3 separate regions of the Homo sapiens genome follow, and regions 2 and 3 are each reported to be linked to region 1. The links are microRNA targets in miRTarBase. Many come from high-throughput screens and were not tested one by one. Region 1 holds a microRNA gene; each other region holds the end of a gene's coding sequence.

Region 1 (5,073 bases):
AGTCCAGGGGTTTTCCCTTCCTTTCTTGGCCATCGGCCATCGAAGCTGCTTCCTGCAGAGCCTGCCGCGTCCTCTATGGAAGGCCTTGGTGAAACACCAGCACTCTGAAGGTTCACTCAATGAAGACCCCCAGAGGCCCACTTACTAGCTGGACAAGGTCTGCATTAGGCCCTGGCTGGGTCAGGTTTCAAAACATTAACCTTAAGCTTTTTTACCCTCCTTTTTTTTTTTTTTTTTAAAGGCACAGCTTTCCCAGTGTTTGTGTTCCTTGCTTGCGCCCTGTTTTAATGTTGTAGTTACAGGTGTCCAGCAGGGAGGAATGCAGCCCCTGTGGGCGCTTGGGGGAGCTGCTGGGAATCCAAGTTCAAGGAGCAGCTGTTTTCTGTTTTCTGTTGCCCCACAGCGCCACCTCCTGGCCCCTTGGTGGTGATGATTTTGAAGTCAGCAGGTTCTGGTGGGCCGTGTGAACTCCAGCAGCTCTGGGCTGAGCTGTGGAAACACTGCGTCCTTTGAAATAATACAGCTTCCTGAGCCCACCCCAGTCCCTAAAGACTGCCTCTGGGGTTGAGATTCTGAGATGCTTGACAGCATGGCTTTTCCCGGTGTTATGTGTCGTTTCTATCCTTAAGCCTGTTAGGGGTGGACTGGAGGCTGGACCAAGCTCCACTGGCTGCAGGAGGACCCTTCTGTGGGCTCCAGGCTGGCCGTGTGCGTGTGGGGAGGTGGGATTTGCTGCTAGGCTTCATGATCACTGTGAAGAAGCAGCCCCCAAGAATAGGGTGATAGGCCCTCCCCATGTCACCGGCCGTTCCTAGTCACATCTGTTGTTGCAGCATGTTATCAGTAGAGCCTCCTTTTACTCTTAAAAATGCCCTGGTTTGGATGATTGATCATACCTGCCCCCATCCCCACCCCACCACCCAAAAAGTGCAGCCACCCTGTGGTGTGCGGTGTACTGCTCCAGCGGTGCCTCTCCGTGGCCTCTGTCCTAAATTAAACGATGGGCTAAGATGCCTTGAAATGCCTGCAGCAGGCCCGGCGAGAGCTTGAATGCTCAAAGGTGTCTATGCCAACTTCTGCTTCTTCAATCAAACTTGAGGCTTTAAGAGACAGGCACGAATAAGGTGTCTCTCCAGAAGGAAGGCCTGGGGGAGACGCCTGGGCTGGGGCATGGTGAGGACGCCCCAATCCAGAAGCACAGCCTCTGCCCTGGACGTGCCCAGCTGCCGGAGCCAGGCGCTGCCTCGTGGCCCTGGAGAAACTCGCCTTGGTCTTGCAGATGGAGTCATCCAGGACACTGAGACCCCAGACACCTGGCTTGGTGGCGGCTGTCCCACCCGAATGCTTGGCCGGGCTTAGTGGCAGAAGCCTTGGACTCCAGGTAACAGGGACAAGGTGAGCTTTCTCAAAAACACTGATGGGTTAGCTCCCTTCAAACTCAAATGCAAAAGACCCCCCGGCATCCTCCCACCCTCTCCCTGAAAAGATCTCTTCCAAATGCCTTATGGGGGATCTTACAGGCGAACACATTGTTTAGTTTAAGCCTACTGCCTGGATTTCAAATTCATCATGAAATAAATACTTGGATTCAAAAGATGAAAACAACTGAATTACAACAGATTTCTCTAAATCTTGATAATCACCAGATTCATGTGAAATGTTTGTTGAAAAGAGAGAGCCTAGGCCCCAAACCAGATGTCCCAGGGAAGAAGGGCTTGGAAAACATGTAGTATTAACAAGCACCCTGGTGATTCAATCAGCAGCTGGGTTTCAGAAACTTGGCTTTGAGTTCTCAACTTACTTTGAAGATTTGAAAACAATATAATTTCAAATATTGGCAACTTCAGCAGCACCCAGGACTTCTGAGGTGCTCAGACCAGGCCAGTGGGATGCAGAGGTTTGCACCTCACATAAAAAGGAGCCAATTTCACAGGGCACAGTGGCTCACACTTATAACCCCAGCACTTCGGGAGGCTGAGGTGGGTGGATTGCTTGAGCCCAGGAGTTCGAGGCCAGTCTGGGAAACATGGTGAGATGCCTGTCTCTACAAAAATTAAAAAAAAAAAAAAAAAGCAGCCAGAAGCAGGAATTCACAGAGAGGCATGTGCATGCACACACATGTGCACACACACATGCACACACACACGTACACACACACATGCACACTCCAAAGGAACCTGCTTTAATATTCCTAAAATGCCTGGGAACAAAAAGCCGTTCTTACTCTCCACTCCTTACCTCCACCCTGCAGCCGCCCGTGGAGGGACCGGATGACCTTGGCACTTCCGAACCTCTTGAAGCGGGCTTTCACATGCTCATAGTACCACTCCAGTGAGCCGATCTTCACGACTCTGCAGGGACAAGCACAGGCTCATGGCACTGCCTGAGTGCTGTACACAGGCCTGCATAAATCTCACACACACACACACACACACACACGAGTGTGTGCATGTGTGCGTCCACCCTTCTTCAGCTAGCCCCATGGAAGGGACACGCCAGATCCAGAAACTATCAAGGTCATTTTACCTCAAGGCCTGGGCTCACCTGGCCAGATGGCAGGGGTCACAGATCCAGCCCTGCTCCTCCGGGTGGACGCGGCCACAGCTTTTGCAGGTGAAGAGGCCACATTCCAGGCACTGCCTTTTGCTATTCACAAGCAGCTGGTAGGGCTGCAGGCAGCGGGCGCAGTGGGTCTCGTTCAGATGGGCAGTGTCGGAAAGCAGCTCCCTCTTGGAGCTTTCCTTCTTAATCTTGCCCTTCAACGCCCTTGGGAAAATATCAGAAACAAGAAATATATTGGGCATCTTGTTTTTGCAACAGGCTTTAAGTGTGTACACGTACATACACACACACACAGACACAGACACATACACACACACAGTAACTGTCTCCTATGCAGAAAACAGTGACCCAACGTTGGGCAAAGCCACACAGGCATCTTTGTTTTGAGGGCTGAGCTCAAACGGGCAATTTTGGTGGCTGGAATGGAATGGAAACACGTTAATTTCATAGAAATGATATTGCATTTAAGCATTTCTGTGGCTGTTTACAATTGTACCAATTTTGGTTGGCAGGTCACTGCGCCCTCCCCAGGGCAGTCACAGAATCCTGGGGGCAAAGCCAGATGGTGTTTCCTGATCAAGCATTGTTTTGGTCTCCTTCAGCAGGGGGGCAAGAGTTGAGCTAACGCCCCAGGTTTGCTCCTCTAGAGCGCAGCTGAAATGGCTCGGTGAGTTTCCAGAGCAGGAATCATCTAGCACCCGGAAGTCTACAGTTCTCCTAGACCATCCGAGTTTAAATAACACAGCTTCCTGGTGAACCTGCCAAGTTGAACTGATTGGAAAGTGTATCCTTAGATGATAATGAACACATTTCTTTTGTTCTAGATTTCAGAGAATGTCTGCCAAACGTAATATTTTCAGTTTCAGATGAGATAAAATTAATCCATTCTTAGTGACAAAAACAAGAAGGACACTAGGTGCCATTGTCTTCTGAGAACTCTGAAGCACACTGATTTGGAGGCGGACACCCAGAGTGCAGCAAAGGTGAAGAGAGTGGAGGAGTCCCACCAGGCAGGGGGAGGCCACCTCCGGTTTCAAGTGCAATTGGCTGAACTTCACGATTTTCCTCTCTCCACTATTTACAAAAATGTTCACTGAGATGGACACGAAATCAGGCTCTTGTCATAGCTTCAAAAACCAAGAGAAAAAGGGTCAAGCAGTTGTAGGAATCTAGGGGGATACCGCCATCCACAGACTACAGTTTAGATAAAGCTGCATTGACAAGGTAAAGTCTTTGTCCCAAACAGAGGAGCACAAGTCCCTGGAGCCAGATGGGAAGGGCCTCACTCCCTCCATTTCCACCCTTGCCAGCTCTGCACCAACCAGAAAACCTGGAGGCCACCCCTTCGCTGGACAGGGCTTGTTAGCCTCTGTCCCAGGGAGAACCTCTTCTTCTGTATCCAGGCAGAACGGTACCCTGAGGGCCAGCACAGCAGGAAGAAAGACAAGGACATGTGTACTGCCCTGCATTCCAGGCTGGAGGAGTCCTCTTAAATAAGAGCCCAGAAGTGTCCTGGGGCAGCAGCTGGAGGCTGATATATTTCAGAGGCTGAAATTAGGGGAAAGGAGAACTGTACTGTGCTTTAGATTCTTTAAAACATAACTTCCCTTCTTCATAGCCAGAGACCAGGAAGGGAGGGCAGAGAAGACTCCATTTGGGGAGACCAAATGACATCTGCCAGCCACTCCAGGACGTATCAACAAGACCCGGAGCTTCCGATCCTGAGGAGTGAATGGGGCCAGAGCACTCCATGCACTCTGCTAATTGGGTTGACCAGAAGTCACTCCTCAACAGGCAAGAGCCCGGCACGTGGCTCCAATTTAAAGTTAGCTTCAGGAATAAAAGACCCTCCTGAATGTGACTTACCATCAGAAACAGACTCGAAACAAGTCAGCTTGGTGTGCTGAATGGGGCATAAGCAAGTACGTGCAGTCTCAATGAGAGGGACAGAGGAGACACAGGAGGAAACCAGGCTGAGATGGGAGCACCACCGGCTATGCTGGTGGAGGTGGAGAAGAACTGGTTAAGACAGAGATGGCGAGAAATCACAGCTCACAATGGAGGGGGAAATGGGCACAATTTCTACCGTGGAATATTAGATCCAATGATTTCGAAGAGTGGTCTTCAAAGTGTGGTCCAGGGACCTCTCTTCTGGAGGTTCCTAAGATCCTTTAGGGGGGTGAGTCACAAGGCCAAAGCTATTTTTGTAATAATGCTGAGACATCATTTGCCTTTTCTTTGCTCTTTGATGCCTGCACTGAAGGTGTAAAAACAATGGTGGATAAACTGCTGAGGCTTTAGCACGAGTCAGGGCAGTGGGCCCAACTGCTCTGACAGTCATTAGATCCTTCATTGAAAAAGAAATGAGCTGGGTGCAGTGGCTCACACCTGTAATCCCATCACTTTGGGAGGCTGAGGAAGGTGGATCACCTGAGGTAAGGAGTTCAAGACCAGCCTGGCCAACATGGTGAAACCCCGTCTCTACTAAAAATACAAAAATTAGCCAGGCAC
Region 2 (5,073 bases), not on the chromosome of region 1:
CTACAGGGTTATCTCTCTTATTTCCTTCAGGGCTTGGCTTAGAAGCCCCCTTCTCAATAAAGCCTTCCCTAGCCACTGTGTATGAAATGTTAAGCCCCTCTTCCACAACATTTTATACTACTCTTTCCTGCTTTATTTTTGTTTTCTCCTTTAGCACTTATTACCTTCCAACATACCATATATTTTACTTATTTATTTTCCTTGTTGTCTGCATATCTCTATTACTAAAGTAAGGTCCAGGAAGGCAGATTTTGGGCCTTTTGTTCACCACTGTATCCCCAATACCTAGGTCAGTGCTCATTCTTAGTAGACCCTTAATACATATTTGTTGAATAAATGATTTCTTTGTTTTATTTGCCTTAAATACAATGTATGAATGCTTTCCACTACTAAAAGTAATTATTAGTTGACATTGATGATTGATTTTTAAAAAATTTTGTTTTTGATAGGACCATCAAAGAACTGCAGGGCCAGCTGGAGTATGAACGACTACGTAGAGAAAAATTAGAATGTCAGCTTGATGAATATCGAGCAGAAGTTGATCAACTCAGGGAAACACTGGAAAAAATTCAAGTCCCAAACTTTGTGGCTATGGTTGGTGTCCTTTTTAATACATTTATTTTTCTCAAGAAGTATATACAAGAGTGGCCAAGAGTACAAGCTTTGGGCTGGGGCTCTTTGGACTTGAATCCTGGCTATAGTCTTTTTTGATTTGGGCTACTCATTTAACCTTTTTGTGCCTCAACTATAAACTGGAGATGATAACTTATACTTTCTAGAGCTGATGACAGGATTAAAGGAATACACACACACACACACACACACACACACACACACACACACTCTATATGTAACTATAACTTTCTAGATACATACACACATCTGTCTATCTATCTTCAAACAGCAGCCTAGTTCATAAGTATTATTGTTAACATTGTACCATAGAAGGAGAAAATGTTTTCATAAGTAATCAATCAGAATTCTAAGACAGCTAGAGGATATGTATATTTTAATATTCTAAATAACCAAAATAAAGTGCTTTGAATGGAATCCATATTTTCTTTCCATAGGGAAGTTTCTTCATCAATCATCATGGATGAATTAATTCTGTTTGAGGCTTGTGTCACCTCAAATCTGATCTATTAATATTATAGAATCTTCCTGGCTTCTTTTTATTTTGCACAAACTAGTCATTGGTCTCTTTAATAACCACTTTAAAAATATTAAAATAATAAAACATGTTTGTTGTATAGTGTTAAAAACAAGATAGATGTTCCTTCTGACACTAAGTTCCACTCTCCAGAGGAAGCTATTGTTAACAATTTAGTACATACCATATTAGACAAAATTCTATTTATCTGCAAACATGTATGTGTATTTCTATGCATATGCAAATATAACCACTTCCTCAGTTTCTCTGGGTTTTGGTGTCTCACCAGTGGTTGATTTTCCAAGAAATATAATTAACTATAATAATTAATCTATTCTCTTCATTTTGCAACCCTCTTCTTGTACGATCTTTAGCACATGGGGAAAATTTAGTATCAGAGAGGCCAGCTGTACAGTCATGTGTTGGTTAGAGGGCTAGAGGACACAGCACCATTTATAACTCACTGCTTCCAATCAAATCTGTTACCCCTCCACCTTGTGGCAGGGACTCTGTGACTCCCAGTCTCCTCAAAAGTAGAAAGGTAAGTTGTAAGTTGTTGTTCTTCGTTTTTTCTTTTTTTGGACAGGGTGTTGCTCTTGTCACCCATACTTCAATGCAGTGGTGCCATCATAGGGCACTGTAGCCTCGAACTCCCTAGGTTCAAGTGATCCTCTTGCCTCAGCCTCCCAAGTAGCTGGGACTGTAGGCATGCACCAACACACCTGGCCAATTAGTTTTTTTGTTTGTTTGTTTGTTTGTTTTGTAAGGACGGGATCTTGCTTTGTTGCCAAGGCTAAGTTGTTGTTCTTCAGCTGCCTAGGTGGGACAATCTTTTGGGGTGGTCACGCAAGCTGCACATTTTCTTTTGAGCCATTCCAAACTGTCTACTTTAGGAATGTTTCTGTCTTTTAGCTATTTAGAAATTCTCTTTGCTTACTCAGAAGCATCTGTTCTCAGGTTGGATCTGGTTTCATACTTCACAGTTTTGCTTCCCTAAAACTTCACTCTACCAACAATGTGTAGGCTTTCAGGAGAGCTGTCTCAAGGTCCCTGTGCTCAGAGTTCATTTTTTTTTGCATTCTTGCTTTAGGTTATACCTAATTTTTGTAAATAAGCAAATGTCACTGAGCTTTCATGGCAGCTGCAACTCTGGCACTGCTTATTTTCACTTGCAAAAGCTTGAATCTCAATTTCCTCATCTTTAAAATGAGGAATAATAATACCTACCTCATGGAATTGTATTGATGTTAAATGGAATATTGTGTAGAAATCCTGAATTTGGTTTCTAGCACGCAGAGGTATTCACTATATAGTAGTAGTCATTGTATTATTTACTCCCTTTCTTTTTTTCCATTTTCTATATTACAGATGAGTTGACATGGTCAGTGGATAAATAAATGTGTAGAGCCACATGCAGCTAAGGATAGGAAGAATTTATCTGGGAGTCTAATTATATGTAATGTATAAGTAAAATGAACTTTTCGTTCAGGATTATAAATACGGAATCCTCAAGAAGCTCTGACTAAGTCTTTCTCCTGCCACCTTCTGGTCAGGACCTATGATTGCATACTACTGTACCTTAAGATCCTCGGCCCCCAACATAATCTGCAATAGTATAATTTTTACTGAGAAAAAAAATTATTCGAATAGTTTCCTAGGATAGTTTGACATATATAAAGCACTTAAATGGTTTTTTGATAACAGCTGTTTTTATAGCACTTTCTCAGATATTATCTCATTTTAGTCTGCATCAACCCTATGAGGAGGTAGAATGATATATATATTTTTGATCCCATGTTATAAATGAGAGGGCAGAGGCTCAGAGAAGTTGAGAGTCTTGTTAGAGCATACAGCTAGTGTAAGGCAGGAGCAAACTCAGAATCTCTGTCTCCACATTATATTTTTCTAATACTTCTGTGGAAATGACTATCAAATCCATACTTAAGTACTGTGTCCCCACTAGGGATCCCCACCTGTATTTCCCACTGCTCGTCAACTGGACATTTCCACCCGAAATTCCTGGTGGTGCTTGAATTAAAAAAAAATGTCCAGAACCAAGCTCAATATCAAGACCAGATTCTCTCCCCTATCTCTGCATTTAAATTAATGGCATCACTATTTTCTCAACTACCCAGTCTTGGACTCTTAATGATTAGCCATGTTTTCTCCTTTAGATCATACAAAAAGCGAGTCCATCCTGTAGGTAGGAACATGTTCTCTACTTTCACTGCTTCCCTAGTTTAGGTTTCTATATCTTTCTATCTGAACTACTGTGATAGAATTTTGGTATTTACTCCTTCCCTATCCAAATCCATTTGACTCACAGTGGTCAGCTTGATTTTCTTGTCACTCCTTGGATTGAAAATCTTCCTTACCTGAATAAGTACTGATTCTTCAGTTTGACATTCAGCCTTAACCTACCTCACCAACTTTATTTTTGTCTGTTCTCCTATATATATATTAATAGCTTATTTTTTCTTAAGCTACCCTATGCTTTCCCATCATTAAGCCTTTGTTCAATTTGTCCATATACCTTGAAAACTGCCTGTTGACTCTGTAAAATCCCCTAGGAGCCATCTCATTTATCACCCCTTTCCTAGTCTCCCTGGTCACACGTGATCTCTCCTTCTATCAAGCACCTTGTACTGGTCTGAGGGCTTCTCGTCATCTGTATCACAGCATGATTGGGCACTTACTTTACCCGCAGTACTGAAAATCTAAGTTTTATAAGATCACTTAACTTATGTTAATAACATCATCTTAGTCATCATTAACAACAGGTTTTGAGTATGTTGGGCTTAGTGTTAAGACTTTATATTCAGCAGATACCATCTTCATTTTATAAATGAAGAAATCAACTCTCAGATAAAATAAACAATTTATAAAGTTACAAAGCTTGTTAGATGGCTAGCCATGATTTCAACCTGTCTAGCCCCAAGTCTATGCTTTTAACACCACTTGTTACTGCTATTATAAACCCCTCACATTCCCTCTTTCTGTGCTTTTAAGAACATTTATTTTGAAAATTTTTCTTTGAAAACTTTTGATGATAGCTTTTTAATTTTAGTAAATTAATTTAGTAAATTAATTTTAGGGTTAATTTACTTATGAAAACTTAAAAATTGGTAAGAATTTTGTTAAAATGTTACACTATAAGTTCAAACATATATTTCAAGATATGTCTTAAATTGGAAGTTGAGATGATAAAATATAACGTAGGATATCTTCATGACCTTGGGGTAGGAAAAAAATGTGTAGACTGGACTTCATTAAAATAAGACTTCAGTTCATCAAAGATTATATGAACAGACTTGAAAAGGCAAGCCAAAGTGTAGAAAAACATATTTCCTTTCTTTCTCTCTGCTTTTCTTTCTTCTCTCCTATCTGAAAAAGAAGTTGTATCTAGAATATATAAATCAACGTGAAAAAGACAGTCCAGTAAAAAAACTGGGCAAGACTTGTGTAGGCATTTCACAAAAGAAGATATCCAAGTGGCCAATAAACATGAAATTGTGCTCAAAATCACTGGTTATCAGAAATGTAAATTAAAACCCAAACAAGATACCAATATATACCCATCAGAATGGCAAAAATTGAAACAGACGTTACCAAATGCTGGTGAGGATGTGGAACAACTGGAGATTTTATACACCAGTGGTGGCAGTGTAAATTGGCTACCACTTTGGAAAATTAATTCCTAGTGGAATTAGTACATGTTTCTTTGTGTACACAGATGGACACCAAAAATATATAATGTTCTTGTCAGCATTATTACATATATCTCTCAAACTAGAATCATCTAAAAATTCCCTCAACAGTAAGAATCAATACATTTTGCTATATTCATACAATGGAATATTATATAGCAATGAAAATGTGTGAATTGCTACTCTACACATCACCACGAATGAATTTCACAAACA
Region 3 (5,073 bases), not on the chromosome of region 1:
CCGAAGGCAAGATTACAGGGGAAGCGTTCGTGCAGTTTGCCTCGCAGGAGTTAGCTGAGAAGGCTCTAGGGAAACACAAGGAGAGGATAGGGCACAGGTACATTGAGGTGTTTAAGAGCAGCCAGGAGGAAGTTAGGTCATACTCAGATCCCCCTCTGAAGTTCATGTCCGTGCAGCGGCCAGGGCCCTATGACCGGCCCGGGACTGCCAGGAGGTACATTGGCATCGTGAAGCAGGCAGGCCTGGAAAGGATGAGGCCTGGTGCCTACAGCACAGGCTACGGGGGCTACGAGGAGTACAGTGGCCTCAGTGATGGCTACGGCTTCACCACCGACCTGTTCGGGAGAGACCTCAGCTACTGTCTCTCCGGAATGTATGACCACAGATACGGCGACAGTGAGTTCACAGTGCAGAGCACCACAGGCCACTGTGTCCACATGAGGGGCCTGCCGTACAAAGCGACCGAGAACGACATTTACAACTTCTTCTCTCCTCTCAACCCTGTGAGAGTCCATATTGAGATTGGCCCAGATGGAAGAGTGACGGGTGAAGCAGATGTTGAGTTTGCTACTCATGAAGAAGCTGTGGCAGCTATGTCCAAAGACAGGGCCAATATGCAGCACAGATATATAGAACTCTTCTTGAATTCAACAACAGGGGCCAGCAATGGGGCGTATAGCAGCCAGGTGATGCAAGGCATGGGGGTGTCTGCTGCCCAGGCCACTTACAGTGGCCTGGAGAGCCAGTCAGTGAGTGGCTGTTACGGGGCCGGCTACAGTGGGCAGAACAGCATGGGTGGCTATGACTAGTTTTGTTAGGAACATTTGAGTTACTTCAATCATTTTCACAGGCAGCCAACAAGCAATTAAGAGCAGTTATAATAGAGGAAGCTGGGGGACCCATTTTGCACCATGAGTTTGTGAAAAATCTGGATTAAAAAATTACCTCTTCAGTGTTTTCTCATGCAAAATTTTCTTCTAGCATGTGATAATGAGTAAACTAAAACTATTTTCAGCTTTTCTCAATTAACATTTTGGTAGTATACTTCAGAGTGATGTTATCTAAGTTTAAGTAGTTTAAGTATGTTAAATGTGGATCTTTTACACCACATCACAGTGAACACACTGGGGAGACGTGCTTTTTTGGAAAACTCAAAGGTGCTAGCTCCCTGATTCAAAGAAATATTTCTCATGTTTGTTCATTCTAGTTTATATTTTCATTTAAAATCCTTTAGGTTAAGTTTAAGCTTTTTAAAAGTTAGTTTTGAGAATTGAGACACAATACTAATACTGTAGGAATTGGTGAGGCCTTGACTTAAAACTTTCTTTGTACTGTGATTTCCTTTTGGGTGTATTTTGCTAAGTGAAACTTGTTAAATTTTTTGTTAACTAAATTTTTTTCTTAAAATAAAGACTTTTTCACAATGACTGGCACAGATTACTCAGCAAAAGATAGCAAAACGGGTGGTTGAAGATAATTCATTTTAATCGTAATGTATTTTAGTGTGAATTTAAAAATTTCATACATCAAATCTATGATCTCCCTTATATTCTTATGATGAGGCTAAATAAAAGTCTAATAAAAATGTTAAATATGTGAATGGTGGAAATGGTGACTAGCAGCACACATTCTGGGAAGCATCAAATAGACACACGGCCCCAGCCACCTGCAACTTATGTGCACTGTTGTAAACCATTCAGAATTTTCCTGCTAGGCCCTTGATGCTGGAGTCACATCTGTTGATAGCTGGAGAACTTTAGTTTCAAGTACTACATTGTGAAAGCAATTATTTTGTTTCTAGTTTTTATAAAATGCTGATTTAAACTTTTTTTTTTGGTCACGCTCCTGATTTCTGTAGGGCGCATTTGTTAATTAGGTTATGACAGGATACACATTATCAAGCTTGAGACCCATTTTCAAATTGCTATCTACCTTGGCAACAGCAATGTTGAAATTCAGGCAGCTCTATATATAGCATACAGTATTACTATCATTTTAAACCTTATGCTAAATACAAACCATCAGGACTTTAAAATGTGGAGTTTATTTAAAACCATTCTGTGCAAAAATGCTATCTACCATTGGGAATTCTTCAACTTTATTTTCCCACTTCACTAGCTGTATAATGTAACCTATATGTTATGATTTTACCAATATTAAGGGTCTTCATTAGTATCTTAAAGAGTAAATAAATGCTCTTGGTAAAACCCCTGAGAGCTGCATTAAAAATTAGGTCTGTGAAGTCTTCAGCCTTTTCTAGCCTCATTGGGCTTCAGAGGCTCACCTTAGGTACAGCCCTTCGTTCCAGTGTTCTGCATGCTTATGTTCTGCATGCTTGGATGGCCTGATGTGAGGGCAGCAGCATCACCAGGAATGGCAGGGTACAGGGACGCAGAAAGAGGCACTCGGAAGACTGGCATGGGGGAAACCTAGGGAGAACTGTCCTTGCTGTAACCCTGATCTGGGATCTCTGCCCACCCATGGGCCTACCATGCTTCAAGTGTCAGCACTGCATGGGGAAGGAGAGGCCTGTAGGTGAGGGAGACCCACAGAAACAGGTGGAGTTTCCGCTGGAAATGGGGCTGGAATGCCATGAAGATGAGACCTCAGATTTCGTAGAGTGGTGGAGATTCAAAGAGTACCTTCACAACCCTGGAAGTCTATGCTAGATTTAGGATGCATGGGTGGAAAGGGCTCCAGGGGATGGGAAAGGGAATGTGTTAGATGACCTGACATCCCAAGGTAACAACATAACATGGACAGCAAAACATCCCCTTGCTCCAGGATTGTTAACTTTTGTTGGGGAGGGACAAGTCTCTCTCTGATGCCCAGGCTGGAGTCTAGTGGCATGATATTGGCTCACTGCAGTGTCAGCCTCCCGTGCTCAAGTTATCCTCCCACCTCAGCCTCTCAAGTAGCTGGGACTGGAGGCGCACACCGCTATGCCCGGCTGATTTCTGTATTTTTTGTAGAGATGGGGTCTCACTATGTTGCCCAGACTGGTCTTGAACTCCTCAGCTCAAGTGATCTGTATTCTTCAGCCTCCCAAAGTTCTAAGATTTCAGGCATGCACCATGGCACCCAGCCATGCCCATTTGTTGCTACACACAGCCGTGCCCATTTGTTAATACTGTCCATGGCTGCCCAGGTACTACAGCAGGCAGAGAGATGGGTAGTTGTATCAGAGACCACATGGCCCACAAAACCTAAAATATTTACTGACACTACAGGAAATGTTTTTCAACCTGTGGCCTTGGGCATGACTAGGGCATTCCCTGCAAGGTAAAAGTCAAGATACTGCATCTTGTTATGTTGTAGAACCCCAAATTCAGGCTTGCGTACCTGATGTGTAGCTGATGCCAAACACCAAGACAAAGGTGCTTGGAGATAAAGGTTTATTTGATTTGGCCAAGGTGAGAAATCTGCCTTAACAAAAAGAAGCAGCGTGGAGTTTTTTTGTTTGTTTTGTTTTTTTAGAGATGGGGGTCTCCCTATATCACCCAGGCTGGAGTGCAGTGACTTTGAGAGAGTCTCAAAGTGCTGGGGTTATAAGCGTGAGCCACCGCGCACAGCCTCAGCATGGAAGTTTTGACCTCCGTTTTCAACCTGGGCCAGTTCACCCCTCCTTAGGCAACGTGGTGGTCCTCCACTCCTGGGAGGTCATAGCGAGGCCGAACTTGCTGCAGATACCCAATCGACATAGTACACTACAGCCTCGGCCTTCCAAAGTGCTGGGATTATAGGCATAAGCCACCATGCCAGGCATGGGGAGTTTTTACACAGCTAGAGACTAAGGGAGGGGCAGTTTCAGAGAACCGAGGGGGGAAAAGTCTGTGTTTCTTTAGTCTCACATAGTGTCTTGAATAACCAGACTTCTGGGTGTCTGCAGCTGGTCGCAGTGTGTTTAAAGACATTCATTACTTCTGCAAAATTTTTTTATGGCCCTGAAGTTATCCCCTCCTTCACAAGGAACAGTATTTCAGCAGTTCATAATTTCATTATGGGAACAAGGAATACTGGGCAAAAAGCGAGTGGTTAATGTGTAAGCAAGTAAGGGCCTGATAAGAATTTTCATCCCTTGAGTCACTAAAAATGCCGGGTGTTGAAAGAGGCATAATTTTGGGTAGTAGTTTTTGGATTTTGGAGAAAGCTGCTTTGACCCTTGAAAATACCCTGAGGCCTGGCGCAGTGGCTCACACCTGTAATGCCAGCACTTTGGGAGGCTGAGGCAGGTGGACTGCTTGAGCTGAGGAGTTGTTTTTTTTTGTTTTTTTTTAAAGACGGAGTCTCACTCACCCAGGCTAGAGTGCGGTGGTGCGATCTCGGCTCATTGCAACCTCCACCTCCCCAGTTCAAGCGATTCTGCCTCAGCTTCCTGAGTAGCTGGGATTACAGGTGGGTGTCACCACGCCCAGATAATTTTTGTATTTTTAGTAGAGATGGGGTTTTACCATGTTGGCCAGGGTGGTCTTGAACTCTGGACCTCAGGTGATCCACCCACCTCGGCCTCCCAAAGTGCTGGGATTACAGGTGTGAGCCAGTGTGCCCGGCCAAGCTGAGGAGTTTGAGCAGCTTGGGCAACATGGCAAGACACTCGACTCTACAAAAAATACAAAAATTACTCGGGCATGGTGGCTCACACCTGTAGGCCAGCTACTTGGGAGGCTGAGGTGGGAGGATCGCTTGAGCCCAGGTGGCGGAGGTTGCAGTGAGCCAAGATTGCACCACTGCACCTCAGCCTGGATGACAGTGAGACCCTGTCTCAAAAAAAAAAAGGAAATACTACTCCTGCTAATTATCAGGTGACCAGAAGGATGCAAGGACTCCACCAGCTCCTCTGCCATCTGCTACAAATGACAGCATAGGCCCCATCAAAGAGGTACCTGTGTTCCTAAATGATTTCATGTGGCACCTCTGATAAGTCTCAGTAAACACTCAGGCCAAACCCTGAAACTCTGAGTGTTCTGAATCAAGGCCACGTTTTCTGCAGGAGAGGGCTAGTTACCTTTCTTTTCTTTTTCTTTCTTTTTTTTTTTTTGAGACGGAGTCTCGTTCTGTTGCCCAGGCTGGAGT

Evidence for each region. Region 1 holds the annotated microRNA hsa-miR-6811-3p (AGCCUGUGCUUGUCCCUGCAG, at 2,352-2,372, opposite strand). A microRNA usually pairs through its seed, bases 2 to 8, with sites in the 3' UTR of a target mRNA and lowers its output. Matches are read on the target gene's strand: a 7mer-m8 pairs with bases 2 to 8, a 7mer-A1 pairs with bases 2 to 7 and ends in A, and an 8mer does both.
Region 2: miRTarBase lists ANKRD42 as a target of hsa-miR-6811-3p. The part of its 3' UTR that is shown has no 7-base or 8-base seed match.
Region 3: miRTarBase lists HNRNPF as a target of hsa-miR-6811-3p. Seed matches in the 3' UTR shown: 8mer at 846-853.

What each region holds. Positions count from the first base shown.
Region 1 is chr2:237,508,267-237,513,339 of GRCh38, reverse strand. It overlaps MIR6811 (microRNA 6811), which reads right to left and starts at 2,409; the gene lies at 2,352-2,409. It overlaps MLPH (melanophilin), which reads right to left. Exons shown (of 16, transcript NM_024101.7): 3 at 2,545-2,766; 4 at 2,239-2,351. RefSeq lists enhancers at 1-56, 57-557, 1,938-2,438, 2,439-2,939.
Region 2 is chr11:83,247,494-83,252,566 of GRCh38, forward strand. It overlaps ANKRD42 (ankyrin repeat domain 42), which reads left to right. Exons shown (of 11, transcript NM_001300975.2): 11 at 450-1,478. The coding sequence ends at 711. Among named protein-coding and RNA genes, the nearest start is that of CCDC90B-AS1, 36 kb to the right of the region's middle.
Region 3 is chr10:43,382,373-43,387,445 of GRCh38, reverse strand. HNRNPF (heterogeneous nuclear ribonucleoprotein F) reads left to right here. Exons shown (of 4, transcript NM_001098204.2): 4 at 1-1,828. The coding sequence ends at 809. Among named protein-coding and RNA genes, the nearest start is that of FXYD4, 13 kb to the right of the region's middle. RefSeq lists enhancers at 1-217, 218-719, 2,457-2,536, 2,587-2,666, 2,687-2,836.